Linked DNA regions of Homo sapiens: regions 1, 2 and 4 are each reported to be linked to region 3. The links are microRNA targets in miRTarBase. Many come from high-throughput screens and were not tested one by one. Region 3 holds a microRNA gene; each other region holds the end of a gene's coding sequence.

Region 1 (7,897 bases), not on the chromosome of region 3:
ACCAGTGGGGTAGACATTTTAGAAGGAATGCCTTTTTTTTTTTTTTTTTTTTTTTTGAGACAGAGTCTTGCTCTGTCGCCAGGGTGGAGTGCAGTGGCTCGATCTCGGCTCACTGCAGCCTCCGCCTCCTGGGTTCAAGTGATTCTCCTGCCTCAGCCTCCTGAGTAGCTGGGACTACAGGCGTGTGCCACCACACCTGGCTAAATTTTGTATTTTTAGTAGAGACAGGGTTTCACCATATTGGCCAGGCTGGTCTCAAACTCTTGACCTCGTGATCCGCCCACCTCGGCCTCCCAGAGTGCTGGGATTACAGGCGTGAGCCACCGCACCTGGCCTAGAAGGGGAATACCTTTTAACTTGGTGTAAGAATTGTCAGGCTGCCCCTTGAAAGTGTGTGAACATCACAGACCATGTTTTAGAGCCTAGATTCCTGACTTAAATGGAGAGTTGGACTCTAAAGTTCATGATGTATAAAATTATGTGATGTATGAAATTGCAGCCCCCAATGTAGCTTTCATGACTCTGCGTAGCATGTGTAATACCAGCAAAATGGTGACTTGTGCCAAAATTTTTTTTTACTTTTTGGTCTTCTTTTCCCTTTCTCAGAACGTCCCCACAATCGGTGTCATTGCCGTTGTCTTAGCCACACATCTGTGCGATGAAGTCAGTTTGGCGGGTTTTGGATATGACCTCAATCAACCCAGAACACCTTTGCACTACTTCGACAGTCAATGCATGGCTGCTATGAACTTTCAGACCATGCATAATGTGACAACGGAAACCAAGTTCCTCTTAAAGCTGGTCAAAGAGGGAGTGGTGAAAGATCTCAGTGGAGGCATTGATCGTGAATTTTGAACACAGAAAACCTCAGTTGAAAATGCAACTCTAACTCTGAGAGCTGTTTTTGACAGCCTTCTTGATGTATTTCTCCATCCTGCAGATACTTTGAAGTGCAGCTCATGTTTTTAACTTTTAATTTAAAAACACAAAAAAAATTTTAGCTCTTCCCACTTTTTTTTTCCTATTTATTTGAGGTCAGTGTTTGTTTTTGCACACCATTTTGTAAATGAAACTTAAGAATTGAATTGGAAAGACTTCTCAAAGAGAATTGTATGTAACGATGTTGTATTGATTTTTAAGAAAGTAATTTAATTTGTAAAACTTCTGCTCGTTTACACTGCACATTGAATACAGGTAACTAATTGGAAGGAGAGGGGAGGTCACTCTTTTGATGGTGGCCCTGAACCTCATTCTGGTTCCCTGCTGCGCTGCTTGGTGTGACCCACGGAGGATCCACTCCCAGGATGACGTGCTCCGTAGCTCTGCTGCTGATACTGGGTCTGCGATGCAGCGGCGTGAGGCCTGGGCTGGTTGGAGAAGGTCACAACCCTTCTCTGTTGGTCTGCCTTCTGCTGAAAGACTCGAGAACCAACCAGGGAAGCTGTCCTGGAGGTCCCTGGTCGGAGAGGGACATAGAATCTGTGACCTCTGACAACTGTGAAGCCACCCTGGGCTACAGAAACCACAGTCTTCCCAGCAATTATTACAATTCTTGAATTCCTTGGGGATTTTTTACTGCCCTTTCAAAGCACTTAAGTGTTAGATCTAACGTGTTCCAGTGTCTGTCTGAGGTGACTTAAAAAATCAGAACAAAACTTCTATTATCCAGAGTCATGGGAGAGTACACCCTTTCCAGGAATAATGTTTTGGGAAACACTGAAATGAAATCTTCCCAGTATTATAAATTGTGTATTTAAAAAAAAGAAACTTTTCTGAATGCCTACCTGGCGGTGTATACCAGGCAGTGTGCCAGTTTAAAAAGATGAAAAAGAATAAAAACTTTTGAGGAACTCTCGTAGTCTGGTTAATTTGGGTGCTTATGTCTATGAATCTACCCAAAACCTCCTTCTTGGATGCTGCTGCTAGGCGGAGACCTCTCTGTGGATGCCAGTAGTGAGGGACAGAGAATTAAGGCACCTGGTCCTGCAAGCTGCTTGAGTCCAGACAACTGTGAACCCTTCTGAAGAGATGCTGGGTGTCGGTGGCTTCCTCCCCAAAGACAGGCTGCCCCTAGCTTCTGTCTCTTAATGGCTCTAGCCTCTGATATCAGAAGATCTGCTACTCTGTTCCCAGCCTGCCCCAGACTCGGCTGCCGCCATCGCTGTTCTCCACTCTGTGGCTGCTCTTGTCACTAATGCTACCTGCCTCCACTTTCCCTTCCTGCAACTGCTTGTGCAGCCCCAGTGCAGCCTTGGCCCCAGCCCATTCGAACGTCTTCCCATCTCCCTCCTCCTCACCATATGCAGGGCCAGGAGTCAGGTCATAGCATTCAAAGCAGAGTCCCTTCTGTCTCCTGGGGTCTGGGATCCAGCTCAGAGTGGCCAGGAGAGCAAAAGTCATATTTCTCTCGTTTTGTGTCTTTACAGATAATTTTGTATGAATTTTATTTCCTACTCTATAAGCTACTGCTTGTTTAAGAGAAAATGTTTTAAGATTATCACCCATCAAATGAGTTTAGAAAATTGAGACTCTGGAAGATGGTCCACAGCTCCCTTGTGGCTCAGGTGGTGCTGGGCTTACACCACACAGCTCCACCCCTACATCCCTCAGGGGGTTATTGGAGAAGCCGGAACTTCCTCAGACAACGTTCTTAATGCTACGAGCGCCTCCTTGCTGGTATGAGGAGACTTGCCTACCTGCTTCTCAAGGCTGCTGGGATGTGTGGTGCTCAAAGCTTCCACTTGGTCAGCTTGCAGCCATTCTCAGGCCTGCTCCCATCCCCATCCCTCCTCCCTGTAAGGCCCTTCTTGCATCCTTAGGTTGCTTTGCTCATGTCTCTCAACTTTTACTTACTCAGGTGGTAAGCAGATACCCTAAAAAGGTATATTTTTGTAGACCTTTTATAGAGTCCACCAGCCAATAGGAGTTGGCTGGAGATCATTCTCAAGAACTTTTCACACTTTGGCATTCATTTGTTGGAAGTTGCATCTTCACTTCAGAGCTGTGCCCCCATTACTCCCCCACCCCACACACACTCTTCTGAAAACAGACCTTTGCTAGGTGCCTCTGGGTGTTCTAAAGTTGATCTCCAGTAACTGAGAATTCACTGCCACACTAACAGCTTTGTATTGCATTCTAGACCCGCACACACACCCTCCGACATAAATGAAATCACTGGTTCTGAGGCAACTTAGGAAGACTTACACATGTTCTGTATTTTAACATGCTTCTAGAACTTTGAGCTGCAGAAAATTTCAGTTTTAGGGTTTTTTAATTTTAATTTTTGATTGATACATAGTGATGTGCATATTTTGAGGGTCCATGTGATAATGTAATACATTTGTGTAATTATAAGGAGCAAATCTGTGTAACTGGGATATCTGTCACATTAAATATTTGTCTTTATGGTAGAAACATTTGAATTATTCTAGTGATTTTGAAATACACAGTAAATTATTGTAAACTATAGGCATTCTACTGACCTATCAAACACTAGGTCTTGTTTCTTTTATCAAACTGTATGTTTGTACCCATTAATCAACCTCTCTTCATTTCCCCCTACCCTTCTTGGCCTCTGGTAACTACCAATCTACTCTCTATCTTCATGAGATCCACTTTTTTAGCTCCTACATAGGAATGAGAACATGTGATATTTGTCTTTCTGTGTTTGGCTTATTTCACTTAACATCACCTCCAGTTCCATCCATCTTGCTGCAGATAACATGATTTCAACCTTTTTATGGCAGAATAATATTCCATTGTGTATATATACCACATTTTCTTTATTCATTCACCCATTGATGGACACTTAGGTTGATTTCATGTTTTGGCTATGTGAATAGCGCTGCAATAAATATGGGAGTATAGATATATCTTCAATATGTCTTTTGTTTTGGATATTGATATGGTTTGGCTCTGTGTCCCCACCCAAATTTCATCTTGAATTTTACTCCCATAATTCCCATGTATTGTGGGAGGGACCCTGTGGGAGATCATTTGAATCATGGAGGTGGTTTCCCTCATACTGTTCCCATGGTAGTGCATAAATCTCACAAGATCTGATGGTTTTATCAGGGGTTTCCACTTTTGCATCCTCCTCTCTTGCCACTGCCATGTAAGAAGTGCCTTTTGCCTCCCACCTTGATTCTGAGGCCTCCCCAGCCATGTGGAAATGTAAGTCCAATTAAATCTCTTTTTGTTCACAGTCATGGGTATGTCTTTATCAGCAGCGTGAAAACAGACTATTATGGATATATAATCAGTAGTGGAATGGCTGGATCAGATGGTAATTCTATTTTTAGTTTTTTGAGGAACCTCCATGCAATACTCCATAGTGGCTGTACTAATTTACATTCCCACCAACAATGCGCAAGGGTTTCCTTTCTCTACGTCCTTGCCAGCATTTACATTCCCTGTCTTTTTAATAAGATCCATTTTAACTGGGGTGAGATTATATTGTGGTTTTGATTTGTATTTCTTGATGATTAGTAATATTAAGCATTTTTTTCATATACCTCTTGGCCCTCTGTCTTTTTTTGAGAAATGTCTCTTTAGATCTTTTGCCCATTTTAAAATCAGTTTGTTTTTTACTTTTGAGTTGTTTGAACTCTTTATATATTTTGGTTATTAACCCCTTGTCAGATGGATAGTTCACAAGTATCTTCTCCCATTCCATGGATTGTCTCTTGACTTGTTGATTGTTTCCTTTACTGCACAGAATGTTTTTAGCTTGATGTAATTCTATTTGTCTGTTTTTGCTTTGGTTGCCTGTGCTTTTGAGCTCTTACACAAAATATTTTTGCCCAGACCAATGTCCTGGAGTGTTTCATAGTTTTAGGTCTTAGATTTAAATCTTTAATCCATTTGCTTTGGTTTTTGTATATGGTGAGAGATAGAGGTTCAGTTTTATTCTTTTGCATATAACTATCCAGTTTTCCCAGCATCATTTATTGAAGAGACTCTCTCCTTTCCCCATTGTATGTTCTTGGTGCCTTTGTCAAAAATGAGTTGGCTATAAACGCATGGATTTATATCTGGGTCTGGGTTCTCTATTCTGTTCCATTGGTCTGATGTCTTTGCATGCCAGTACCATGATGTTTTGGTTACTATAGCTTTGTAGTATATTTTGAAGTCAGGTAGTGTGATTCCTATAGCTTTGTTCTTTTTGCTCAGGATTGCTTTGGCTATTTGGGGTCTTTTGTGGTTCCATGTAAATTTTGGAATTATTTTTTCTATTTCTGTGAAGAATGTCATCGGGTCCATGAGCGTGAAATATCTTTCCATTTTGGGGTGCCCTCTTCAGTTTCTTTCATTAGTGTTTTATAGTTGTCTTTGGATAGATCTTTCACATCTTTGGTTAAATTGATTCCTAGGTATTTTGTATTCTTTGTAGCTACCATAAATGAAATTGATTTCTTGATTTCTTTTTCAGATTGTTGTTCTTGGGATATGTAAATGCTATTGATTTTTGTATGTTGATTTTGAATGCTGCAACTTTACTGAATTCACTTATCAGTTCCAACAGTTGTTTGGTGGAGTCTTTAGGTTTTTCTAAGTATAATATCATGTCATCTGCAAACAAGACTAATTTAAACTTCTTTCTTTGATGCCCTTTATTTCTTTCTCTTGCCTTATTGCCCTGAAACTTCGAGTAGTAGGTCAAATAAAAGTGGTGAAAGTGGGCATCTTTGTCTGGTTCCGGATTTTAAAGAAAAGGGTTTCAGTTTTTCCCTATCAGTATTATATTAGCTAGGAGTTTTTCATAGCTAATGACCTTTATTATTTTGAAGTATGTTTCTTCTATACCTAGTTTGTTGAAGGTTTTTTTCTTATAAAGGCATGTTTAATTTATTGAATGCTTTTTCAGCATCTATTGAAATAATCATATCGTTCTTGTTCTTGGTTCTCTTAATGCGATATATTGTGTTTATTGATTTGTATGTTGAACCATCCTTGCATCCCTAGGATGAATCCTATTTGATCATGATGAATTATCTTTTTAATGTGTTGTTGAATTCCATTTGCTAGTATTTTTTTGAGGATTTTTGCATCTATGTTCATCAGTGATATTGGCCTATAGTTCTCTTTTTTGGTTGTGTCTTTGTCTGGTTTGGTATCAGGGTAATGCAAGCCTTATAGAATGAGTTTGGAAATATTCCCTTCTCTTCAATTTTTATGAAGCATTTGAATGGAATTGGTCATCATTCTTCTTTAAATGTTTGGTAGAATTCAGCAATAATGCAATCAGGTCCTAGACTTTTCTTTGATGGGAGACATTTTATTATGGCTTCAATCTCATGACTCATTAGTGGTTTGTTGAAATTTTCTATTTCTTCATGGTTTCAATCTTGGTAGGTTGTATGTGTCCAGGAATTTGCCCATTTGTTCTAGGTTTTCCAACTTGTTGGCATGTAGTTGTTCATAACAGCTTCTAATGATTTTTTGTATGTCTGTGGCATCAGTTGTTATGTCTCCTGTTTCATTTACAATTTTATTTATTTGAGTCTTCTCTCTTAGTTAATCTAGCTAAAGGTTTGTCAATTTAGTTTTTGCCAAAAAAAAAAAACCTTTTCATTTCATTGATTTTCTTTATTTTTTAGTCTCCATTTATTGCTGCTCTGAATTTTATATCTTTTCTTCTAATTTTGAGTTTAGTTTGTTCTTTTCTAGTTTTTTGAGGTACATCATTAGGTTGTTTATTTGAAGTCTTTCTACTTTTTTGTTACAGGCATTTATTGCTATAAAATTCCCTCTTAGTACTATTTTTGTTGTATTCTACACATTTTGATATGTCATTTTCCATTTTCATTTGTTTCCAGAAATTTTTAAAATTTTCTTAATTTCCTTATTGGCCCTAGGTCATTCAGGAGTGTGTTAATTTCCATGTGTTTGTGTATTTCCCAAGGCCCCCCTTGTTATTTCTAGTTTTATTCCATTGTGATCAGAAAATATACTTGATATGATTTCTACTTTTTTGCATTTGTTGAGACTTGTTTTGTGGCCTAATATACAGTCTGTTTTGGAGAATGTTCCATGTGCTGATGAAGAAAATGTGTATTCTGCAGCAGTTGGGTAAAATGTTCTGTAAGTGTCAGGCCTAATTTGATCTGGTGTGTAGTTTAACTCCAGTGTTTCTTGATTTTCTGTCTGGATGACCTGTCCATCACATATAGTAGCATGTTGAAGTCCCCTACTATTATTGTATTGCAGTCTATCTCTCCCTTTAGATTTGTTAATGTTCGCATTATATACTTGAGAGCTCTGTTGTTCAGTACATAGATATTGATACATATTTCCTCCTGCTGAATTATTCCCTTTATCATTAGTGATCTTCTTTGTCTCTTTTTACAGTCTTTGATCTGTAGTCTGTTTTATCTGATGTAAGTACTTACTTATATCAGCTACTTACTCCTGCTCTTTTTTGGTTTCCAATTACATAGAATATCTTTTTCCATCCCTTCACGTTAGAAGTGAAATGATCTTCTTGTAGGCAGCATATAGTCAGGTCTTATTTCTTTATCCATTTAGCCATTCTATGTCTTTTAATTGGAGAACTGAGTCCATTTACATTCAGTGTTTTTGTTGATAGGTAAGGACTTACTACTGCCATTTTGTTGCTTGTTTTCTGGTTGTTTTGTAACTCCTCTCTTCCTTTCTTACTGTCTTCCTTTGTGGTAAGTGATTTTCTCTGATAGTATGTTTTAACGCATTGCTTTTTATTTTTAGTGAATCTATTATAGATTTTTGCATTGTGGTTACCATCAGGCTTACCAAAAAAATCTTACAGATACAACAAGTTATTTTAAAGAGATGGCAGCATAGATCACACAGAAAATAGAAACAAAGAAAAATGTAAAAACAAAAAACTGAAAAAACCTCTACACTTTAACTTCATCCT
Region 2 (7,958 bases), not on the chromosome of region 3:
GAACTGTGGTGAGCCCACTTTGCAGGGGAGCAAGGGGAGGCCCTGGGCAGGGACTAAGCTGAGCTCTGAATCACTGGGGGACTTGACTGATGCCCGGGCGCTCTCCACCCTAAAGGGAGCCATCTCTGAGACTGCACCCCAGGCAAGGGGTGGCGGAAAGGACAGCCACCTGGGTGGGGACCGCTCCAGTCTCTAGCCTGCTTTGCATGAGCATTGGAGCGGACAGACCTGGTTTGAGCGCTTTCTGTCTCGTGAGCTCCAGTGAGCCCCTTGGCTCCTCTGAGCCTTGATTTCCTCACTGTGCTTTGCCCTGGGAAACAGCTGTTCTCAAAGGTGCTCTGCCACCCCAGGCCCTTGCTCCTTTCCCTGGGTAGTTCTCCCTGCCTGGCGGGACTCACCACCAGGCTTCACCTCCACCAGGAAGCCTTCCCTGATCCCTATTGGGTATCCTCCTTGGCGATTGCCTTTTTCACGGGCAGTGGCCCCTGGACGCAAGCGTGTGCCCAGTGTGGTATAGCACCTGCTCAGAGTGGGGCCTGTGAGTGGCTGAGGAATGAGACATGGATTGCTTGTGTGACAGAGTGAGCTGTAGGGAGATGCTGGATGACCACGGATTGTGGTCGTGGTCAGGGATGCCCACCTTGGATGGGAGTTTAGGCTCATGATGGACATCACAGACAACAGGAAGGGCTTGGCACTTGGGACCCAAGGCCTGGCCTGGGGCTGCTGCTTGTGCCCACATCTGATAGGGCCTTGTCATCATAGCTGCACAACGTCACCCTGGCGCTGGAGCTGCTGAAGGACGAGGGCCTGCTCAGCTGCCCTGTCAGCCCTGAAGGTGAGTGCAAGGCAGATGCCCACACGGTGGCCAGCCCTGGGTGGCAGCCTTGTGCGAGAGCCACAGAACAGGGTGCAGGGCATTGGGGGATGAGCACGCATTGGCAGAGTCCTCTTGCCTGGCAGGGGTGGAGAATGGGCGCTTGCCAAGGTTTCTTGGGAGGGGGCACTGCAGCCCCAGGGGAAGAGGTTCTGGGGAGGGGGAGACCAAGGTCTCTGGGGACAGGTTGTCCAGAGAAGCCAGACCTTGAGGAGTTGCTGTGTTGGGGGCACCACAGGAGCATTCAGAGGAGGACTGGCCAGGAGGAGGAGGCAGTCACGCAGCAGGCGCGGGACCCAGGCCTGGAGTGACCAGCTGTCCTGGCTTCCAGGGATTCTCCTGGGATTAGCACTGAAATCCTGAATGCCAGGAAACCTTGACCACATCGGGACAGTCGGTCACTGCCACCCAGGCCTGACTGGCTGCCCTGCCCTCCTTTGGCCCGCAGATATCGTGAACAAGGATGCCAAGAGCACACTGAGGGTGCTCTATGGTCTGTTCTGCAAGCACACGCAGAAGGCACACAGGGACAGGACGCCCCATGGAGCCCCGAATTGACCCTCACTGCCTCCAAAGCCCAGAGCCTGCCTGTCAGCCCAGCTGGAGGGCCCGAGGCTGCAGGGTGTCCTCCCACAGTCCCGCTGTTTCCTGTGCATTCGTGACCCGCTTCCCTCCCACCCTGTCTCCTGTCTCCATCGTTGGATTATCTTTGAACCCCCTTGTGTGGATCATTTTGAGCCGCCTGGCCTTGCTCAGTTTATTTTAATAAAAGTATTTCTGGGAGGGATTCTGGGAACTTGACAGGGTCCTGAGGAGGGCCCTTAAACCTGCAGCCTCCCTCCCATGGGGTGAGTGTGTGTCACATCAGTCTCTCATCTCTGGGCCCAGGCTAGTGACCGCCCAGAGAGGTGGCATCACTCAGGGCTGGGGACTCTCAGGGACAGGGCCCACAGCCCCAGACCCCACCTTTTCCAGCCCAGCTCCCCACACCCACCTGCTTCTCACTCGGGAGGATGGGCCCCAGAGTCACCCTCCAGGGCAGGAGCCCGAATGGCTCCATAGCCATGCCCCCACCCACCGGGAGAAGTGGATTCAGTGACTGTCAAAGCAACCCGGGCTGTGTCCTGCAGCTGCCCTCGTGAGTTTTGCCCAAAAGTCACAAAGAAGCAATCTTCGTGGTTGATTAGTGGGTTCAGGTCATCTCCAGTCTGTCCTCGGGAGCTGTGGGTTCCCACTCGCTCCAGTGAGACTTGGCATTTTCTGCACATAAAGAAGAGTCGTGTGGGAGAATTGCACATAGTCAGTCCAGGGCATCCAGAGTGGGGCAGAGCTGATGGCTGATGGGAACCGGGGAGGAGGCTGGCGGGGAGGGGTGAGATTGGTGGGGAGGGCTGGGGCTGGCCGGGAGGGGTGGGACTGATGGGGAGGGGTGAGGCTGGCGGGGAGGGGTGAGGCTGGCGGGGAGGGGTGGGACTGGTGGGGAGGAGTGAGGCTAGTGGGCGGGTGAGGCTGGCGGGGAGGGGAGGGTTTGTGGGGACGGGTGAGGCTGGCGGGGAGGGGTGAGGCTGGTGGGGAGGGCTGGGGCCTGGTGGGGAGGAGTGGGACTTGTGGGGAGGAGTGGGACTTGTGGGGAGGGGTGAGGCTGGGGAGAAGGGCAACCACAGCCCCAGGCTGCTGCTCCTCCCTGGACCCTGAAGAGGCCTCTGGGTCTGGGGTTTTCACAGTTTGACAGCTGAGGCCTTGGGGAGGGGCTTTAGATGGGGGTTAGGGGCTAGGTCATCATTGACACCCACTGGGGGCGCCTAGGCAGATGTCCTTCGGGGGAGCAAGATGGGAGCCAGGGACGCAGTGCCAGGTCAGCCCTGGGAGCTGGTGTCTGGGTGTGAGAAGGCCTTGAGGGGTCTTCCCTTCACCTAGCCTCCCATCTGCCTGCCCTTCTCAGCTCCCAATTCACAGGGCAAACCCAAGCCCATAAGCGTGTTCCACGTGAGCACTCAGATGCACCCCTCTTCATGGATACCCACCCTACTTCCCGGCTGCCTCTGGGAAACGTGCATCCTCCCACACCAGGTACCTGGAGCCCAGCTCCTTCCACCTGCTCAGGTGCCCCCTCCATTGCGATGCCCCCTCCAGCACCTCAAATCCTCTCCTGGAGCTTCTGGGGACACAGGCTCAGCCTCTCTCAGCTGGCTTCATCCCAAAAGCCTGAAATCCAGCCCCACTTCCTGGGGCCTTTGAGTCCTCACTTGCTTGGGCCCCATCCGCTGCAGGCTGGCTCTGCCTGGCTGTTCCACGTCCTCACTCTTGTTCTATTTGACAGCAATTAAAAAAAAAGTGACTTATTTAATTACTGTAGCTTTATTGAAAAATAACTTCCCAGTTTGAAGTGTACAATTTGATGAGTTTTGACAAATGCATGCAGTCATATAACCACCACCATCGTTATCCAGACATGGGACATTCCCATCACCATGCAAGTTTCTGCATCTGTCTGCAGCCAGTTCCCTTCTCCCAGCCCCTGGCCCTGGGGACCACTGATCTGTTTTCTGTCACCATCATTTAGACTTGTCTAGAATTTCTTATAAACTGTATCCTATGGTATGTTGCTTTTTGTGTCTGATTTCTTTCACTTAGCATAATGCTATTGAGAGTATCTCCATTGTTTCTTGTATCAACAACTCATGTCCTTAGTACATTCAAAAATAAGTCCTCCAATTTTGTTCTTCATTTCAAAAATTATTTTGGTTTTTCTAGGTCTTTTTAATTCTTTTGGTTTCTACATAAAATTTAGAATCAGTTTGTCATTTTCTGCAAAAAAGCCTGCTGAAATTTTGACTGGAATTGTGTTCTTTAGATCAAACTGGGGAAAACTGACATCTTAAAAATATTGGGGAGCTAAGATCACTGATTTGAGAATATTTTTCTTTTATATAAATATTTAATGCTGGATTTTTTTTTCTAAGCACAGCTTTAGCTGCATCCCACAGATACTAATATGTTGTGTTTTCACCTTCATGAAGTTCAAAATATCTTCTAGTTTCAAATGTGACTTCCTCTTTCACTCATGGGTTATTTAGAAGTGTATAATTTCCAAATATTTTGGGATTTTTTTTCCAGCTATCTTTTGGCATTGGGTTTTGTTGTGGTCAGAGAACATGCTTTGTATGATTTAAATCACTTAAAATGCATTATGACTTGTTTTATGTACTGGATTATGGTCTATCTTGGTAAATATTCTGTATGCACTTGAAAAAGAATGTGTGCTCTGCTGTTGTTGGACAAAATGTTTCATAAATGTCAATTAGGTCAAGTGGGTTGATTATGTTGTTCAGATCTTCTATATCCTTGCTAATTTTCTCTCTACTACTTCTGTCAATTACCAAGACAGAAGTGTTAAAATCTTCAACTGTAACTGTACATTTCACTATTTCCCCTTTCAGTTCTATCAATTTTTGTTTCATACCTCATATAAGATTATAATGTCCTTTTGTCTCATTTATCCCTTGTAATATCTCTTACTCTGAAATCTGCTTTGTCTGATATTAATATAGCCACTCAAACTTTCTGTTAGTATTAGCATGGTATATGTTTTTCTATATTTTTAAACTGCGTCTGTTTAAAGTAGGTTTCTTATAGACACAAATAATTGTGTCTTTTTGTACAATCTGGAAACCTCTGCCTTTTAATTAGAGGGTTTAGTCCACTTACATTTTTTATTGTGGCAAAATATACATAGCACAAAATTAACCGTTTTAGCCATTTTAAGTGTACAATTCAGTGGCATTAAGTACATTCATACTGTTGTGCAACCATCACCTCCATCCATCTCCAGAACTTTTTCATCGACCCAAACTGAGACTCTGCACCCAGGAAATACTAACTCTCCATTCTCCCCTCCCTCAGGCCATGGTAACCACTATTTCTCCCCTCCCTCAGACCACGGTAACCACTATTCTACTTGCTGTCTCTGTGAATTTGACTATTCTAGGTACCTCTAGTCCATTTACATTTAATGGAATTATTAATGCCATCTTGCTGTTTGCCTTGTTCATATGTTTTTCTTATTCCTTTTGGATTGAAGACTTTTTAGCGATGTGAATTTATTTCCATTATTGGCTTACCAACTGTATTTCGTTATTTTCATTTCCTAGGGGTTGCTCTAGACTTTATATACACATCTGCATTCATATCCTGTCATTGCTGTAACAAATTACCACAAACTTCTTGGCTTAAAACAGCAGAAATTTATTCTCCCACAATTCTGGAGGCTAGATGTCTGAAATTAAGGTGTTGGAAGGGTCACGTTCCCTCTGGAGGTTCTAGAGGGAAAGCTGTATCTTGACTCTTCAAGCTCCTGGTGGCTACCAGCATCTCTGGGCTTGTGGATGCATCACTTTAATATCTACCTTCACAGTCACTTTGCTTCTTTCTCCTTTCTCTGTCTATCCCTCCTCTGTGTCTCTCTTATAAGGGCGCTTGTCATGAGATTTAGGACCCACCTAGATAATCCACGATTATGTAATCTCAAGATCCTTAATTTAATTATATCTGCAAAAACTTTTTTCCATGATTATCTAATCTCAAGATCCTTAATTTAATTGTATCTGCAAAAACCTTTTTCCCAAAGAAGTTAACATTCACAGGTTCTGGGGATTAGCATGTGGACAAATCCTTTTGGTCACCATTTAATCTACTATAACATCTTAACTTATTACAGTCTACCTTTAAGTAATATTACTTCCATTTTACTCTTCTGTGTCCTATTGTTGTCATGTGTCTCATTTCTATAGAATAAATTTCACAATATATTATTTTTGCTTAAAAATGTCAATTGTCTTCTTTTGAGACAGGGTCTCACTCTGTCACCCAGACTGCAGTGCTCACTGCAGCCTCGACCTCCCGGGCTCAATTGATCCTCCCACCTCAGCCTTCTCAGTTGCTGGGGCTACAGGCATGCACCACCACACTTGGCTAACTTTTTTAGAATTTTTTTTTTTTTTTTTTTTGTAGAGATGAGGTCTCCTTATGTTGTCCAGGCTGGTTTCCAGCTCCTGGCCTCAAGTGATCCACTTGCCTTGGCCTCCCAGTATGCTAGGATTACAGGCATGAGTCACAGTGTCCAGCCACATCGATTGCCTTTTAAAGAGTTTTTTTTTTTTAATTGAGAAGAAAGTCTTTTATATTTACCCACATACTTATTACTCCTGGTGCTCATCGTTTCTTCTTCCATTTGGTATCATTTTCTTCCTGCCTAAAAGACTTTCTTTATCATTTTGTGTAGTGTTGGTTATATGTTAGTGAGCTTGTGTACCTACAGAAATAGATTCAGTATTGGTCCTTCCCACTCCAAACAGCTTTCCTGGCGATGCCTTCTGCTTCTAAAATTCCTGTCCCTCCTCCCTAAGGGTCACTCTCCAATCTCCACTGCAGCTCTAGCCCTGAGCTCCAGACCCACATTTCTTTCTTTTTTCTTTTCTTTTTTTTTTTGTGTGTGGTAAAATACACATAACACAAAATGTACCATCTTACTATTTTTAAGTGTATTCAGCAGTATTAAGTACATTCCTATTATTGTGCAACTGTCACCACCCTCCAACCACAAAACTCTTTGCATCTTGCAAAACTGAAACTCTGTATCCATTAAACAATAACTACCCCCATCTTCCTCCCCTAGCCCCTAGCCCCTAACAACCACTATTCTACTTTCTGACCTAATCTATATTTTGAACTTCCCAGGGCATAGCTGTGCCTGGGGTGCCCACCCCAAGCTCACCACATCCAAGTCAGAGCTTGCCCCGTTCCCTAATCTTCACTCTGGAACTTTCCAGCTGGCCTCCCTTTCGCAAGAAAGGGACTTCTTTCTTGTGACTTCACTTCTGCACCAGCAGCCAGAGTGCTTTTGTCCTCGGAACCCAGTCTCACTACCATCCTGCTCTAACCTTCCCAGGCCCCAACCTCCGGGCAGCGTCTGGACTCTGGGTGCTCTGGTGCTGCTGGCTTTGTGGTCCTCCTGCTCACTGTGTTCTGTCTCCGTCCCTGCCTCAACCTTTCCACACTGCTTCCAGTTATATCCCTGACATCTCTGCGATCTTTCCAAGTCTTTCTGATGCTGTTCCCTCTGCCCAAGATGCCCTCATCCCACCTGCCCCAGGAACTTGTCATTCAGAAAAGGAGTGGGGACATTCTTTGAGAAGAGAGTGGGGAAGAGGGTTCACCGTGGGACAAGGTGGATGCCTGGGGGCCCTGGGTGCCTGGGGGTGGGTGGAAGAAGTGGTTCCCACAAAGAAGTCTGAGACGAAGCAGGATCAGGGAGCCCTTTCCTCCCCTTATTTCACTATCCATGGCCTTCGCTCTTTTTCTCTCTTCCTCCATCCCAAGAAATCTGACTCCAGTAGAAGTTGCAGCCGAAGTTGGAAGCAGGATAATTATAGCAAGCTGAACAGGAAGGCGTCCAGGGCCAGAGAAGGAGCTGGCAGCTTGGGCTGGGTGTGCAAACAGCTTCGAAGCGAAGGGAAATGCCTCGAAGGCTGGGGTGCCTCGGAGTTGAGCTGCTTCCCAAAATAATCCAGAGGGCAGCTGTCTTGGAGTCTGAAACTGGGTCTGGCCGCCTGAGCTGCAGGAAGCCCCAGGACTCACACCAGCTCCACTCTGGGAACAGATGGAACTAAGATTTTTTTTTTTCTTTTTACCAAAGTCAGCTGGTAAGCGAACAGCTTGTCTAGAGAAAAGTGTGTTCCTGCCCCCATATCTTCTGGCAATGGATCAAAGCTGCCAGTGCCATCCCAACCCCCATCCCTGCCCCACCAGCCTTCTTTCCTTGTAAGACTTGGGCAGTGGTGAGCAGAGGGGCATCATGGACCTAGAGACACATGGGATCCCCACCCCCTGGGGGTGTAGCCCAGGGAGTGTCCTGGGCCCCTAGGTCAATGGGGGACTGGGCTGAGGGGCCTGGCTGGTAAGAAAGTAGATGATGAAGATGTTCCAGAAATGATTCTTCCAAGAAGAGTCAGCCAATGGACCTGGGCTGGCCAACAATTGCATGAATTCATTTATTTATCCACAAGCATTTCATATGGGTTGG
Region 3 (7,958 bases):
ATCTAAAATTTGAAAGTGGATGAAAAAAAAATGTGTCGACTTTCAGTGTTGTGGGGATTGTCTAGCAGGCTTCCTCAAGGACTGATTCCCCTCAGGGGAAACTTTGTAACTTTTTTTGATTTGCTGTTAATTATTTGTGGTATAGGGTTCCTAAGACCACCCTCGGGTTCAATAATTTGCTGGAAGGAACCACAGAACTCAGAAAAGCTGTTCTACTCATAGTTATGGTTTATTATAGAAAAAGAATTTAGATTTATTATCCAAGGTAAAAGGACAATATGGCAGAGTCCAAGAGAGAGACCAGGCACAAATTTCTACTTGTTCTCTCTCAGTGGAGTTGTATAGATAGTGCTTAACTTTTCCAGCAGTGATGTGTGACAACACGTAAGTAGTATTGTCAACCAGGGAAACTTATCTAAACGTTGAGATCCAGCGTTTTTTGTTTTTTTTTGTTTTTGAGACGGAGTCTCGCTCTGTCACCCAGGCTGGAAGCAGTGGCACGATCTCGGCTCACTGCAAGCTCTGCCTCCCGGGTTCATACCATTCTCCTGCCTCAGCCTCCCGAGTAGCTGGGACCACCAGCACCCGCCACCATGCCCGGCTAAGTTTTTGTATTTTTAGTAGAGACAGCGTTTCACCATGTTAGCCCGGATGGTCTCGATCTCCTGACCTTGTGATTCGCCCGCCTCGGCCTCCCAAAGTGCTGGGATTACAGGTGTGAGCCACCACGCCCGGCCCTAGATCCAGGGTTTTTATTGGGGGTCAGTCATATAGGCTTGGAGTGCCCACATAGCTGACCTTAGTTACTCAGTCTCCAGCCCTTTGGAGTCAAACTGACATCATGTAGCCACCTGCCTCCCCACCCCCCTTCATAAATCACATTGTTAGCATAAACTGTCTAGTGTGGCCCAAAGCCCCAGATAAGCAAAGACATTCTTCTCAGGAATGACATTCCAAGGGCTTAGAGGTTATCTCCCAATAAGTGGTTAATGGCCAGACCTTTCTTTGGAAGGTGCAGGGTTTGGATTTCCCAGGTCAGCTGAGTGAACTGTTTAATAGGGTAATTTACAATTTTGTAAGAGTAGTTATTAACTAATAGAAACCTGGTAGTGATGAAAATGATTCTTGTCCAATAACAATGCAAATGGATCTTTTATTGTAGAGATATAAATTATTAAATCTGGTAGAAAAGATAAACTCAAAAGTTATATAGTTGTATTGCCTTTCAGAAGGCTAAACTGGTTTGGAGCTAAATGAGCAATTTGATCCAAGCATCCTTTCTTTCAGCTGCTGAAACATTTTACTTTCTCCAATTCTCTTGGTATTTCTCTTACCGTTTTTCTGTTTCCATCATTAATGAGATAATTAAATCACTGGTATGTACTCATTTTGTATTTACATAAAAATCATATTTTTGATTTTTTTTTTTTTTGAGATGGAGCTTCGCGCTTGTTGCCCAGGTTAGAGTGCAATGGCGCAATCTCAGCTCACCACAACCTCTGCCTCCAAGGTTCAAGTAATTCTTCTGCCTCAGCCTTCCCGAGTAGCTGGGATTACAGGCATGCGCCTCCACGCCTGGATAATTTTGTATTTTTAGTAGAAACGGGGTTTCTCCATGTTGGTCAGGCTGGTCTCGAACTCCCAACCTCAGGTGATCTGCCTGCCTTGGCCTCCCAAAGTGCTGGGATTACAGGTGTGAGCCACCATGCCCGGCCTGATTTGTAAAAAATTATACTTTGACAGTTTCTTCTCATTTACACCCTCTGATAGGCAGCAACCTTCTTAATTTTCAGTGCTGATGGAGATTTCTACTATATCATTTTTTTGGGAATCTGAAGTGAGGGAAGCAGGAAGCTAAAACCTAGTACTCCAAAACTCCTGTCAACCTAAAATAATCAAAAGGTTCAGAATCTAATTTAAAGAGAGTTTATTCAAGCTCAAACAGTGAGGACGGACCACCCAGAAACACCAACTCCAAAGGAATGGAGTCAGCATTTTGAAGTAGGGAAGTTAAGATTTCATTTATTTAGACAGAGACAGAGATTTTAGTGGGATTACAACACTATTTACACAAGGTTGGTGCATAGTTACAGCAATTTGATTGGTTATAGGCAGTGTTTCCTTTTGGGAAGGGGACATTTAACACTTTTCACAGAGGGTGTAATAGTCATGCGTTTTTTGTCATCTGGTCTAAGCAAAGTGAGGCAGCAAAGGGGAAGTGAATCTATGACCAGGGCCATTAATGAAGAAGGCAGGAGGCATTTATCTGTGGTGTAGTTGAATTCACTCTAGTCATTGTGCAGAACAAGAAAAATAAGAAAGTGAGTTAATCTATCTGAGAACAGAAGTTGTAACCATGTGTGACTCAGATCATAGTCACATCTCACTCAGGGCTTAATGTGTTCTGGGGGGGGTTCCAATAGCTTTTAAATTTTATTTATCTCCACGCCCTGAAAGTCCCTGTTGCAGACATCTCTTATTTTGCCTGCTTCTTGGGGCAACGTATTTCTGGTGATTGAGGCAGGATTGTAGTTCCTTATGATTCCTTTCTCCTTAGTGCTGCTCTTGTTCCACTCGCTCCTACCCTCTTGCCTTTCCATCCCCCTCCCACTGTCTCTCTCATTCCTCTCTTGCTTCTTCTCTGCACAGGGATGAGTTTATGTCTCAGGCCCTTCCATTCAGTCTGCCCCAGGCCATCACCATTGGTTCCAGCATGATGCATGTTGGCCAGTCAGAGTTCTTCCCAGGATTACTTCCTTGACAGAGCTATTACCAAAGACTCTCACTCTCTTCTGGGTTCCTAATCTGAGTGAAGGAGAGTGTTGCTGAGAGCTATCTTGCCTGCTTTCATGCCTGCTGTCTGGAGACAGCTAGTCCAACGGGGTGAAAACAGTCACAAGTTGTAAACACACTGCTTGAGCCCTAGTTCTAGCTGCTTACAGCCACTTTACCCCTGCACTTCTTTGTTTCCAGTTCTGTGACAAAGTGAATTCACTATTTCTGCTTAAACTAGTCTGAATTGCATTTCTATTACTAGGAACTAATAACATCCTGATGGAAAAATCGCTATGTGGAAGTGGGGCATAACAAGTGAATACTCCTGAAAGTTAGAATTGACTGAGTTAATTTGGGTGAAGCATAATGGGAAACACAGTCCTCACTGGGAGTCTGGATATCTTTTCCACTATTTTATAACAATTCATATTTTTTCCAAATATGAGCAAATATTTTAATTAAACATGAAGAGAAAAAAACAGACTTTTAAAAGTATGCAGAAAAGGATAATTAACATTGGATCCCTTGTAAAAATGGAACCTCAGGGAGTCTAACAAAAATGCAACTTTGGCTAACTTTTGCTTTTTAAAATTCCTTGTTTGACTTCACCTCCCACTGCACAGGAAATGACAGCTTCTGGGAGACGGGTGGAGTTGCAGGAGTCCCCAGGAGCATCAAAGGGTTCAGGGGTTGTATTCTAGCAGTTTCTTTCTTTTCTTTTTTCTTTTTTTTGAGTTGGAGTTTCACTCTTGTTGCCCAAACTGGAGTGCAATGGCGTGATCTCGGCTCACTGCAACCTCCACCTCCTGGGTTCAAGCGATTCTCCTGCCTCAGCCTCCCGATTAGCTGGGATTACAGGCATGTGCCACCATGCCCAGCTATTTGTTTGTATTTTTAGTAGAAACGGGGTTTCACCATGTTAGCCAGGCTGGTCTCGAACCCCTGACCTCAGATGATCCGCCTGCCTCGGCCTCCCAAAGTGTTGGGATTACAAGTGAGCCACCGCAACCGGCTCTAGCAGTTTCTTGATCTTCTCTTTCCTGGTCTCACTTTCATCTCGCACTATCACCAAGGAGTGTGAGTAGCCTATGGAGACCTGCTTTGAAAAGATGCCATTCAGAGTCTTCACCTCTTGGGCTGCAGTGGAAGACTTGGGCTCATGGTCCCTGTATCCCAATTACCTAAAGGTTGGTTATGGCCCTCAGCTGATGGTGTTCTCATTGGCGGCCACAATGTTGCTGCTCTTCCCACAAGCCAGGCTCTGGATTCTGCAGCCGCAGAGGTCCTGCACTGCTTTCAGGTACATGGAAGATTCATGGGAGATATTGGGCTCCCCCAGAAAAAGAGACTACCAACTTCACAGACAGCAAAGGACCAGGTGTAACCAACATGGATCTGGGATGCCCCACACCCAAGGAAGTCAGACTCCAACCTCACCAAGCGGGGACCATCTCATCCTTCTGCTCTGAGTGGCCCAGTCAACCATAGCCACCAAAGCCCCAGGAGAAGACTCATTTCTTGGAGTCCAGAATCAATGTGTGGTTAGCATTACAGGTCACGTCTTACACAACCGTTATTGGCTGGTGGGTTCTTGACCCTTAGTAAATAGAAATAGACCAAGAATCTGAGATGGGCTTGAGCAAGGCAGTTTATTGGAGCTCTCAGCTTGAGCAGAAGGGGAGGTAGCAGCAGGAAGAGACCTGCAGCTAGCTCCCTGACTGCAGGTTAGTTTGGGGTTTCATTTGCTTTGGAGCTCCTCCATGTGACATCATTGCATGTTTGGGGTGGTTTGGCAGTTGCACCTATGCAGTCTCTGGACATGCTTCTTCATGTGATGCATGTCTCATTAGCATCTTAAATCTCCACCCAGGGGTGTGCTTTTTACTACTGAAATGAAGCAAAGGCCAGGTTAGGACAGGCTAGGACATTACTGGGCAAGTGCATTGGGGAGCATCTTTTGCAAAGTGCCCACTGTTAGCCAAGATGCTTGTGCTCAGAATACTCTGTCTCAGATTTGATTGGTCTATTTTGTGAAAGGAAACGTTTGTGGTTGTGTGGCTGCAAGGTTGAATGTAGCTTCAGTCAGCACAGCATGTAAGGGAAATGGGGAGGGGTCCCTGCCTTGCTCTGGGGGTCTCACAACCACCTTTGGTACAGGCAGAATCTACCCATCTTTCATTCTCAGTGAAGGTGGGCCACTCATCGTGGCACCAGCACCAGCTCACAGCCTTAACTATTCACTGTGCCTGGGTCCCAGCTGACCACATTGAGGGCACACGAAGGAACAGAGGTCTCCTTTGTCGCCCATTATACGGAATTCATTTCCACTGGCCATTCTAGTAATTGGCTGCCCGTTGTCCATGATCTGTGCGGTGCTGGGGATGCTCCTGCGTGGTTGCTGAGGCTCAGCTGCCCCATCTTGTTCTCCCCAAAGGCAAACGCAGAGCCCGTTTCCGTCAAGGCCAAGGTGAGGTTCCGCCCACAGGCTGCCTACATACTCACTTCCCGGCAGAGACCCGCAATGAGTCTGGGGGCTTCCATTCTCTTGGTGTCACCAGGTCCCAGCTGCGCCTTCTTATTTTGACCCCAGCTCCGCAGCTTCCATCGTGTCGTGATGAGGATACTGTGCGCAGTGCGCAAACCCGAGACCGCTGTCCGCACCAGGACCCCGCCAGGCACCCACATCTATGGGGCCCCCACAAATTCTGACCGAGATTGAGGTAAGCAGCTTGCTGTTTAGGCACTTCTTTTCCACCCATCGAGTCCTAGTTGGTTGACCCCGAAATCAAAAACTGCCCCTTTGCACTTCGACCCTTGAAGTCTGATGCGCTCCTTGGTGTGCTCAGACTCCGCGACGACCGCGGCCCCGCCGCTCACCTTGTTCACATATGCAGCCAGCCACGCTGTGCCCTTGCCTCCGCCAGGGCCCCATGGAGCTGCCACAGCGCTCGGCCTCTTGGGCTTTCTGCCCGCACGCTGGGACCTCCACGCTTCCCGGGCCGCCTGGGGCCCCTGTGGTTACCGAAGCCCGGTTCTTCCCAGGCTACTGCCCAGTCTTCATCCTGGGCTTGTCTCTGCTGGTTGGAGTTATGAGAAACCAGACAGAAAAAGGAAGAGAAGTAACTGTTAAAAAAAGACGGATAGAAGGGCTTCCCCCTACACCCCTGTCCCTTCCTCTCCTCCCCAGCACCCCCCAGCACTCCCCACCAGACCAAGGCTCCAGCCCATTCACCAGATTCACTTAAAGTGTAACTTATATTTTGGAACTTGGACCATGTGTCTGCCAAGGCTCAGGCTTTGGTGCTGGGTTAGAAGATTGTGCTGGATGCTTCCTGTGGCCTTCGGTGAAGTCCTTCATAAAGGAACCAAGTTTTGGTTCAAGCCTGGAGTGCAGAAGGCAACGAGGGAAGAGAATGTGGCCTTATTAAGAAAGTCTGATCTGCTTTGAGCTGAATCAGGCAAGCACGTGCTGTGCAAAAGGAGAATTTTGCCCCAAGCTAGGCAGTTAGTACATCTAGGGAGGGCAGCCGGAGCTCAAGCCGAGATTCTGAAGAATCCAAATAGGAAGCCAGGGGGATATAGCTCCTGCCAGAGGAGATATGACCCAACAGAAAAAGCCTTTTACCAAAATGCCCTTTAGATGAGAGAGTAAGCCTATTAGTTGGGCATCACCCTCTCATCCTGTTTCTCATGAATGGGAGGCAGAGACTAGGGTGGAAGAAGCTAAAGTGAGAATTTGGGGATTTCATGTGTAGAGACAGAAACATTAAGGCTACTATTTGGATTCAGGGAGGATTCTGATTCAAGAAGAAGACATTGAAGTTAGCAGAAGCCTGAAATTTTGAGAGTTCTGAGAAATATCAAGTCTTAGAAATATGAGTTTGTTTATCTTTGTTAATCCCTATGACTGTGGCTTCAGAATGCACACACCTCAAAGTGTTGAAGGCTGAAGACAGGATCATTGCCTATGCCCCTCTAATGGCCTCTCCTGGTGCTGTGTTGTTACTGTGGACGGAATGACAATGCCTGAAGGAGGCCCTCTTGGAGAACTGTCAGGGATAAGAAACATTTTTTTTCGTGTCATGTGGGTAATGTGCTGATGTTATAACAAGGTTTAAGGGTGGCACGCCTCACACATGCACATGAACACTCAGTCATCACGCTCATGAACTACAAAAAGATCAAGAAACATTCCTTTTTTTTTTTGAGTGGAGTTTCACTGTGTTGCCCAGGCTGGAGTGCAGTGGCACAATCTCGGCTCACTGCAACCTCCGCTTCCCAGGTTCAAGTGATTCCCCTGCCTCAGCCTTCCAAGTAGCTGGGATTACAGGGATATGCCACCATGCCCATCTTATTATTTTTTTTTTTTTTTGTACTTAGCAGAGACAGGGTTTCCCCATGTTGGTCAGGCTTGTCTCGAACTCCTGACCTCATATCATCCACCAGCTTCGGCCTCCCAAAGTGCTGGGATTAAAGGCGTGAGCCATTGTACCCAGCAAAGAAACAGTCTTATCAAGAAACACTGCAGGTCCAGAAACATTCTGTGCACTGGGCCAGGATGTCCTTGCCGCTCCAGCCCGGTATGTTTCTGTGGACCAGTGAGCATGGCATGCCGTGGGTCTCCTCTCCTTTTTCAGGCAGGTTGCATCACTATTGACGGATCTTTCTACATAGCTGATCAGAGGCCATTGATAAGAAAAATTGATTTGGGTTAACAAACATCTTTTTGGGGTTGCGTAAGTCCCCAAAAGATCAAGATTATTGGTTGTCAATACTTGGGCTCAGTAAAGCATTGATTTGGCAAGGCCATTTTTACAGCCGATGTTAACTGGAGAGACAGGAAATCCTTACTGAGGGATGGTGTTTTCTTTTGTAAAACTGCTATAACTAAGTACCACAAACTGGGTGGCTTAAAGAACAGAACTGTAGTGTTTCACAGTCCTGAAGGCTAGACGTCTGAGATAGAGGTGTTGGCAATGTTGATTCCCTCTGAGGGCTGAGGTGTAACTGTTCCATGCTTTTTGCCTGGTTTCTTGTAGTTGTTGGCAATCTTTGTCATTTCTTACCTTGTAGAAGCATCACCCTGATCTCTGTTTTCGTCTTCACATGACATTCACCCTGTGTGTTGTCTGTGTCCAAATTTCCCTTTTTTATGAGGACACAGTCTCATTGGTTTAGGGTTC
Region 4 (7,787 bases), not on the chromosome of region 3:
ATCAGCTCCCTGGCTGGCAGACAAGTAGAAACTATGTTAAGATGAAAATAAGGTATCACACAGAAAACATACATTTAGGTTTCTTTTTTTTTTTTTTTTTTTTTTTTTTTGAGACGGAGTCTTGCTCTTGTCGCCGTTTCTAGCTTTTTAAGAGTTACAATTAAGACCTCAATTTGAAGACTGGGCGCGGTGGCTCATACCTGTAATCCCAGCACTTTGGGAGGCCAGGGTGGGCCTGATCATTTGAGGTCAGGAGTTTTGAGACCAGCCTGGACAACATGGTGAAACACTCTACTAAAAATACAAAAAAATGAGCCAGGTGTGGTGGTGCGAAGCTGTAATCCCAGCTACTTGGGAGGCTGAGGCACGAGAATGGCTTGAACCCAGGAGGCGAAAGATGCAGTGAGCTGAGCTCGTGCCACTGCACTCCAGCCTGGGTGACAAGACAGAGACCCTGTCTCAAACAAAATAAAACCTTAAATTGGGCACTCAAGAAACAGCATCTTTAAATTTGTCACTGACTGATGGTTAATTTTACGAAATACACTACAGCTTATATATTAGTAACTACCTACACCAAGACTTTTTTCCCATTCTTCTTTTTAAATTTTATTAAGAAATATCATACATACAAAAGCACATAAACATACAGATTAAAAAAGGAAATGCCCACAGGCTTCAGAAACAGACCCTCACCAGTTCTTCTGAAGACCCCTGTGCCCTCATGATCACCTCTCCCTCCATCAAAACGGCTAACATTAAATTTTGTCTTAATCGTTTCCTTTTATCATGTATTTGACAGCCTGTTTTTGACTTTCATTGAAATGGAACCATAGTGATGTATTCTTCTGTGACTTGCTTTTTTTGATCCTTCTATTGTTGAGTTTTGTCCATGTTCACATACACAGCTGCAGTTCAGTTTCACTTCTGTGGAATTCCACTGTTGGAATATACCACAGTATTTATCCAACACACTGTTGGTGGACACTTGGGATCTTCCCGGGTTTTTTCTTCTTTTCTTCCTATTACACACAAATGCTTAAATCCATCCCCTGGTACGCATGTGTAAGAGTTTCTCTAGGGTATGTATCCGGGAATGAATGGCTACGAGAGAGGTTATGGCACACCCACTTATACCAAATTGTTTCCCGTTTCCCAAAGTTGTTGTTTCTAAACATTCTTAAATCTGTTGACAAATGACCTATTTGGGATGGCTGAGGGGAAGAAATAGATCAGCTACAAAACTCTTGAATTTTTAAAATAGTAAATTCAAAATTCTGATACAACAATGAAAAATACATTTACTTCTCTGCTTTGGCTTACTTGAAATGTACTTTTTAAAACTACAGGTTCAACTTAAAAGTGCTCTCCTTTATCTCAAAATAAATGTTTCTAAATATTACCAGGTAAAAACAGCAAGACTCAGAACATACGGGTATACCGTCATATATTTTGAAAGATCTATACATATATGTTTATATTTCCTCCCACCTCCCATCTCCCCACAAAGAAAACAACTTGGAAGAATAACTGTTAACAGCAGCAAGCTCCTGCAGAGGAAAAACAGAGAAATAGGAGTAGTAGGAGACATAGATCACTGAACACTTTTTTTTTTTAACCATGGGCAACATTACAATTATAATACAAAATTTCAAAAGTAGACCTGGGGTTCTTTCACAAACAACTAAAAAATCCCTCAGGAAATCAAACTTGAAAACCAATCCTGCATGAAGTCCCATCCCACAGAATTGTATACATAATAACTTCAAGTGTTTTTTGTTTCATGCACATATCAGATGTTTAAAAACATATTCACATAGCCCATCTGCAATGCATTTTTAAAAACAGAATGGATGAGGGCTCAGAGAACTTCCACCATAAAAATTTTCAGTTCTTACAAGTCTGAAAACTTTAATCAGAAGGTGGCTGAGCTCAACCAATATGTGGTCCAAGTGTTCTCAGACCTTAGAAATAAGGTTGGTTATTTATCCTCTGTGACACTAACTATATTTAAGGAACCAGAATGCCTAAGGAGAGGGAGTAAAAATATCTGAGCTGAGCAATATGACTAGGTTATTATAAGCTCAAGATCAAGAAAAGGATGTTTCAACCCAAACTGAAAAATGAATGGACTGTGTTTGAAGGGGAAAAAAAAACGTTTTAACAAAAAGGAGCATGATATGTATTATCTCTACATTCCAGAGGAGAGGATGTCTTGAGCAGCAGACTGGTCGGTCCTCTTGAAAGGCTCAATGAAAATTAAACTATTGGACCAGTGCTAATATAGTTTGATGACCAACAAAAGTTTACCCAATTTGTTTTATACTAATGAACTGTTATTTAAGAGGTCTTTGTCTTTTAGAGATACATGCTGAATTATTTACAGATTAAATGGTGTGTCTGAGACTTGCTCGAAAATAATAGAAAACAGTGGATACAAATACAATCACTCATGAAGTATAAAAGTGGTCATGAGTCTTGTTGGTGATGAGTTAACAGAGGTTAATTATATTGTTCCTCTTTTGTGTATGTCTTTAAATTTCCAAAATAAAGTTTTTTTTTTTTTAAGACCAACTGATTGCAGATTCCAAACTTACCAAGCAATCTGATTGATTAAAACTGGTTTGCTCCCCTTAAAGACCTTCCAAAGAGAAAATACATATTCACCAACTAATAACTTTTTGGTCTGCATGGCAGAAATGTTTGTTTCTTCTAGTGAACTGGTCTCAATACTGGATTCTTGTGAGCTGGTTAGCAACAATCAGTTCCTCTTCAGTCACATCAATTTTGGGTGTAAAATTCAACTTCTACGTCTCTCTCCATAACTAAAGCCAGGCCTTAGTCATAGATGTCCTGGGGAGGCAGGTCCTCCTCCCACCACCCCCACATCCCAGGTAACTTCAATAGTTACAATATATCTAAGTGTCCATAGAGGAAGCCTTTTCATATGAACTCATTTATTATACTTCATTTAAGTTAGTTAGACGTTGATTCTAGATGAGGCAGAGCAGAACAAATCTGGTATTTTAGTAACTTCCTAGATTTTTTATTACTTAGGGACAGAATATGGTTTAAAAACTATCACTTTAAGTCCTTTGCTGCTACAACCACAATGCTGTCAAACTACACAAAGCAGTGCCTGGGAGCTATCTTTGTGTTTGTTAGATTTTACTTCCCATTTTATCTTAATCCTCATGTGAATTATCTCTTACAAATTCAGAGATAACCCATTCATCTATTGCTGCATCTCCAGGATCAGCTAGGGAGCCAGGAGGGCTCTGTCTCCACAGCATTTTTTCATACAGAGCCTCTAAAGTGGGGGCGGCTTCATTATTTTTCAAAGTTTGGTGGAAGAGATTTTAGTAAATTCTTTAACAATTCATTATGCCTATTAGAATGAACACAGTGGCTTAACAGGCACTGGACCATGAGGCAGAGACCTAGCAACTCCATAAACATGAAGCCACAGGACCCTCCCTGGATAAGTCATTTAACACACTGTTTCTTTACCTATAAACTGATAGCAGTATTTGCAAGTTATAAACCACAAGGAATTGCTATGATATATATGTATGTGTGTATATACGTAGCTGGAGAGAATACTTTTATACAGTCGAAGAAGCTGGCTATAGATAGAAACATGCTGCCGGTTTTCCTAGATGTGACACAAAAATAATCACTTAAGTGGGGGGAAAAAACCCTTGCCATATATACTACACACCCTATACACAAATACATTTATAAACTGACACAGCTGGGTTAATCTTGATACAGGACTTAACAAAAACTAGCTCTTGAATGCTTTTCTACATCATCCCATAGCTAGCCAGCTAAAGAGTGCTTGTCAGGATACTTGGAATTTTCTACTAAATGAATCTCTCAGGGATGTAAAAATATATTCTAGTTCACTGCACATCTTTGCTATTAAAAGCAAAATTCAAATTTATTCATAACCACCTAAAATTGAAGCACCATTATTTAAAACATTAGAAAGTCTATAAAAATTAGTCTTAAACAGAACAAATCAGATAAAACTGTACACCAACACCTCTAGTAATAGTGTAACTCTTGTATTTAAAACAGGGGACTAGTTCAGAGTCAATAACTTTATTAGAAAAAGATTAATACTAAAACTTTTCAATGACAGAGACAATCAACTTTGTAACAGAAAGTCAGAGATACTTTATTTTTACTTCTAAATCCAAAGGCTAAGTAGAGCAGAGTTGTAAAAATGAAATCCCACTTAGTCTGATTCACACGAATACTAACGTTTAATCCTGTTTTCAAAGTCCAAGATTGAAAACTTGCAATTAAACACTGAGCAAGCCACATGTTTAAGTAATATTTCTTAAAAAGTCTTAAAGAAAAAAGTATGATACAGGACCTAAGTTTTCAGTGGCATATATACTATTAACACATGTTCTGAAATCTGGTAGGTCACATCAGTCCTGAATTAACTTTTAATAATAATAATAATAAAAAAACTAACTGAGCTTTATACTTTTTCTATGCCACTATAGCTTTCTTTCACCTCATTTTTTAAATGTCGATCTTCACTTTATGCCGTTCTCAGTATTCTTCCAAAAATCTTCGAACAGTAGTCCTACAACGCAAAATTTGGGGAAAAATGATAATTAGACAACATGTAAAAGGCCAATTTTTATGAGAAAGTGTTGGCCCAGTCACTAACTGCTAATTAACATGTGTACATGGAATGCTTGTATTCTTTTTAATTATCAAGGCATCAGTGTGGTTCTTAAAGCCATGTGCCTGTGTATGCTTGCCTAAGTGTGAATGACATACACAGACATAACCTTACATTGCTTTCCCAAAAGGGGAATGCCACCAACAAATCAACTAATTGGTACTTCCTTTCATTAGGAATATTTTGTCCCACACCACTAGCCCACAGAATGAAGTTTACAGGTTTTAAGAACACTTACAGTACCTAACTTTTAATATTTCTTTAAAAACCCAAATTCGTTCTATATAGTGCATCAGTTCTTTGATTTCACAAATTGAAGGTGTCTGTCCTTGCTATTCACACTGCTGCTTTAAATGTATCAGCCAGTGAGTGACTATTCCTACATACCTATGGCTGACTGCAAATTCTCCTACACAGTAGGAAATATTAAGCACATACCTCTTATAGACTTGAGAATTGCATTGAGTGTAACAAGGCGAATAATATGAAGTGTTTATTGTATTTAAAATTCTTTAAAGATATCTAATTCTGGCCACCACTGCAGCCCTACATACAGTTGAAAAAAAATTCCATTCTGTTAACATTTGTTTTATAAGTTTTCACGCAATACACAAAAAACCCCTCTGCACTTCTTGTAAAGAACAAAAAAGATACACAACAGTTAAGCGTAAAGATCACAGGCAATAGCATTCAAACATGGATGTGGGTAGAGAAAGGAGTACCTGGCATGAGTACCTGCTTAGTTTGACTGAATCCTTGATTTTTAATTTGGCTTTTCATGGGCCGCTCACAACACCAACGCTGTGTGAGGTATGGTAGTCAGCTGCAATAATTCATAAACCCTACACTTCCATCAATCCAATGCTACTGGCTCTCGAGTTACAGAACAAACTGCATTAGAATGCAAGGCAATAAAGCAAAAAACTAGAAACATCCTTGACAAAGAAATACTAGCAGTTTAATTAAAACAAAGTAGTCCAACATGTGCCTCCGAAATATTTAAGTTTTTAAAGCATATGTCTCTGCCAATGTACCAACACAAGATGGACTTAATACCAAAAAGAAAAAAAAAAACAGTTCAACCTTTTTATTAAAAAAAAAAAAGAAATGACATCAAAATCCCTAAAAAAAGGATAATTAACTTTTCAATGGCGACTATATTACAAATGTGGGCGATAATTTCCAAAGAGGCACACTAATGGGGGCACGAGTCTGCTACAAAATAGCTGAGACAAAACAATGTACCTCAAAATGTTTTGCAGGACTACACTGTCTTTTCCTTCAGAAGAGGCTTTTGTATGTCTTCTTACTCGGCTTAGTTCCATCTTCATCTGTGCATACTTACGCTGCACTGTCAAACAGTAACAAAAAGCCCTAATCAAAGTGAGAAACAATACACTTACCTCTGTCTGATCTGAGGTCTTATCAGATCAGTTTTAATTGGACTGAGTGTCACCTTCAGATTTAATGTCTTCACTGGTCCCATTGACCTCATTCTTAGTATCACTTTCCTTCGATTCAGTGTTTGTGTCTTCACTCTGCTTTTCTCGACTACCGGACTTCACACTACTTTTTTTATCATCAGATCCCCTCTTTTCTGCCATAAAAGAAGACATTGACCATGGATTTTAAAGTAAAATACAATAAAGACATGATTTTGAAAAAAAGTGAAACAACTGAGAGATGAGAGACAATCATTTCCCACAGACTGCAAGCAACGGTTTGGTGAATTTACCAAAGGGATAAAATTTGTAATATATGAGAGAGAAGGCAGGAAGGGGAATTCAAGGAAGCAAAAGGTAAAATAGTGGGTAAATTCTCTCAATTGGTGAGAAGCTATTAAGCACATTGCAGAATATAATATTTAAGTAAATTTCATTGTGGGTAAAAAACATCAAAAAGCACTGGGAAAGGTATAAAAGACAGCATACAAAACTATGTTCACATGAGGTTCAATTATTAAGTTAGAAGGGTAAAAATGGAGACCCCAAAAGGTGAAAAAAAGTTGAATGTTTATAACAGGCATGTTTTAAAAACTACAACTACATATTTTTCAATGCAAAACATTATTTTTATATATATTTGAATATCCAAGAAGGATAAGCCTAATCAAAGAAAATGGATCTTAAATCCCAATCTAAGCAACTGAACTTTTGTGCTTTGCTAAGAAAAGTAATATATATGCCATCTGAGAGTTGTTTTTCCAAAAAGAGAAATTAAAATTCAACTCAGCTGCAAATGAAGAATGAAAAAGGTAAACAACTTTTTCCTCTACTATTCTTTGGATGGGTAAGACCTCAGACTAGAGGTAAAAGTAGTACACCAGAGCAAGCATAGTCTAGCCTTTTCAGTTCCAAGTATTCCCCCAACAAAAAATTTCTACAGAAAATGTTAAAGCCAACTAGAAACTTTCTGGAAAAATTACTTTTCCCCTTACTAAGAATAGCTGGTCTGGCAGAGTAGTTAATTAGACAAAAAGACATTTTAAGAGAAACAGAACCCTCTACATAGTTTCTGCACAGTTATGAAGACGTAACACCAAATATCTAGGAAAGAGATGGTAATGAAAAACAAAACATGGTATGGGAGGGGCACCCACTCAGAGAACTGAAGATCTTATGTAAAAGAGCATATTTAGTCCGTAACACTTGCATAATACACAAAGCAATGTCCAAGTAGTTAAGCGCAAGACTTGCTTCATGTCTGTCTGTCCACTTGTGAGAACTGTGCCAGGACAGTGGGCTCTAACTGACCTTGTGGGAAAGTCCTCCCTTTGTGCCTTATGGGCTTCTCCGGTGCACAGGTAGCTTCAATGAGGAAGAGTCGTCTTGTTGTCCCGTAGAGGACTAGTAGTCAGTCCAATAATCTTATCTTCTGCCCTATGTAAATATGGTAGATCTTAATAGTCCTAAGGACATCCACAATTTGTGGTGGATTTTAGGGCTATGGATGAAAAAAGGAAACTCTCTTGACAAAGAGAGCACCTTACACTGGTTGCTGACAGCTTTGTGTGAGAAACCACTTTTCATTTGTGGAGTAAGATAAACTGCTTCTATCATAGCACCTGGAGTAATAAACTTGC

Evidence for each region. The annotated mature microRNA hsa-miR-4468 reads AGAGCAGAAGGAUGAGAU and lies in region 3 at 4,225-4,242, opposite strand. An mRNA with a match to its seed (bases 2 to 7 or 8) in the 3' UTR can be bound and repressed. Matches are read on the target gene's strand: a 7mer-m8 pairs with bases 2 to 8, a 7mer-A1 pairs with bases 2 to 7 and ends in A, and an 8mer does both.
Region 1: miRTarBase lists ST3GAL5 as a target of hsa-miR-4468. Seed matches in the 3' UTR shown: 7mer-m8 at 1,164-1,170.
Region 2: the mRNA of PARVG is a reported target of hsa-miR-4468. Seed matches in the 3' UTR shown: 7mer-A1 at 2,973-2,979.
Region 4: miRTarBase lists LUC7L3 as a target of hsa-miR-4468. Seed matches in the 3' UTR shown: 7mer-m8 at 4,216-4,222, 7mer-m8 at 3,006-3,012 and 7mer-A1 at 2,217-2,223.

The regions. Positions count from the first base shown.
Region 1 is chr2:85,833,102-85,840,998 of GRCh38, reverse strand. ST3GAL5 (ST3 beta-galactoside alpha-2,3-sialyltransferase 5) reads left to right here. Exons shown (of 7, transcript NM_003896.4): 7 at 607-3,879. The coding sequence ends at 855. Among named protein-coding and RNA genes, the nearest start is that of ST3GAL5, 52 kb to the left of the region's middle.
Region 2 is chr22:44,204,992-44,212,949 of GRCh38, forward strand. PARVG (parvin gamma) reads left to right here. Exons shown (of 14, transcript NM_022141.7): 13 at 766-838; 14 at 1,326-3,478. The coding sequence ends at 1,435. Among named protein-coding and RNA genes, the nearest start is that of PARVG, 28 kb to the left of the region's middle. RefSeq lists an enhancer at 1-148.
Region 3 is chr7:138,120,087-138,128,044 of GRCh38, reverse strand. It overlaps MIR4468 (microRNA 4468), which reads right to left and starts at 4,287; the gene lies at 4,224-4,287. It overlaps LOC124901828 (small nucleolar RNA U13), which reads right to left and starts at 6,957; the gene lies at 6,854-6,957. It also overlaps the pseudogene RCC2P3.
Region 4 is chr17:50,749,016-50,756,802 of GRCh38, reverse strand. LUC7L3 (LUC7 like 3 pre-mRNA splicing factor) reads right to left here. Exons shown (of 10, transcript NM_016424.5): 10 at 584-6,302. The coding sequence ends at 6,142. Among named protein-coding and RNA genes, the nearest start is that of ANKRD40CL, 15 kb to the left of the region's middle.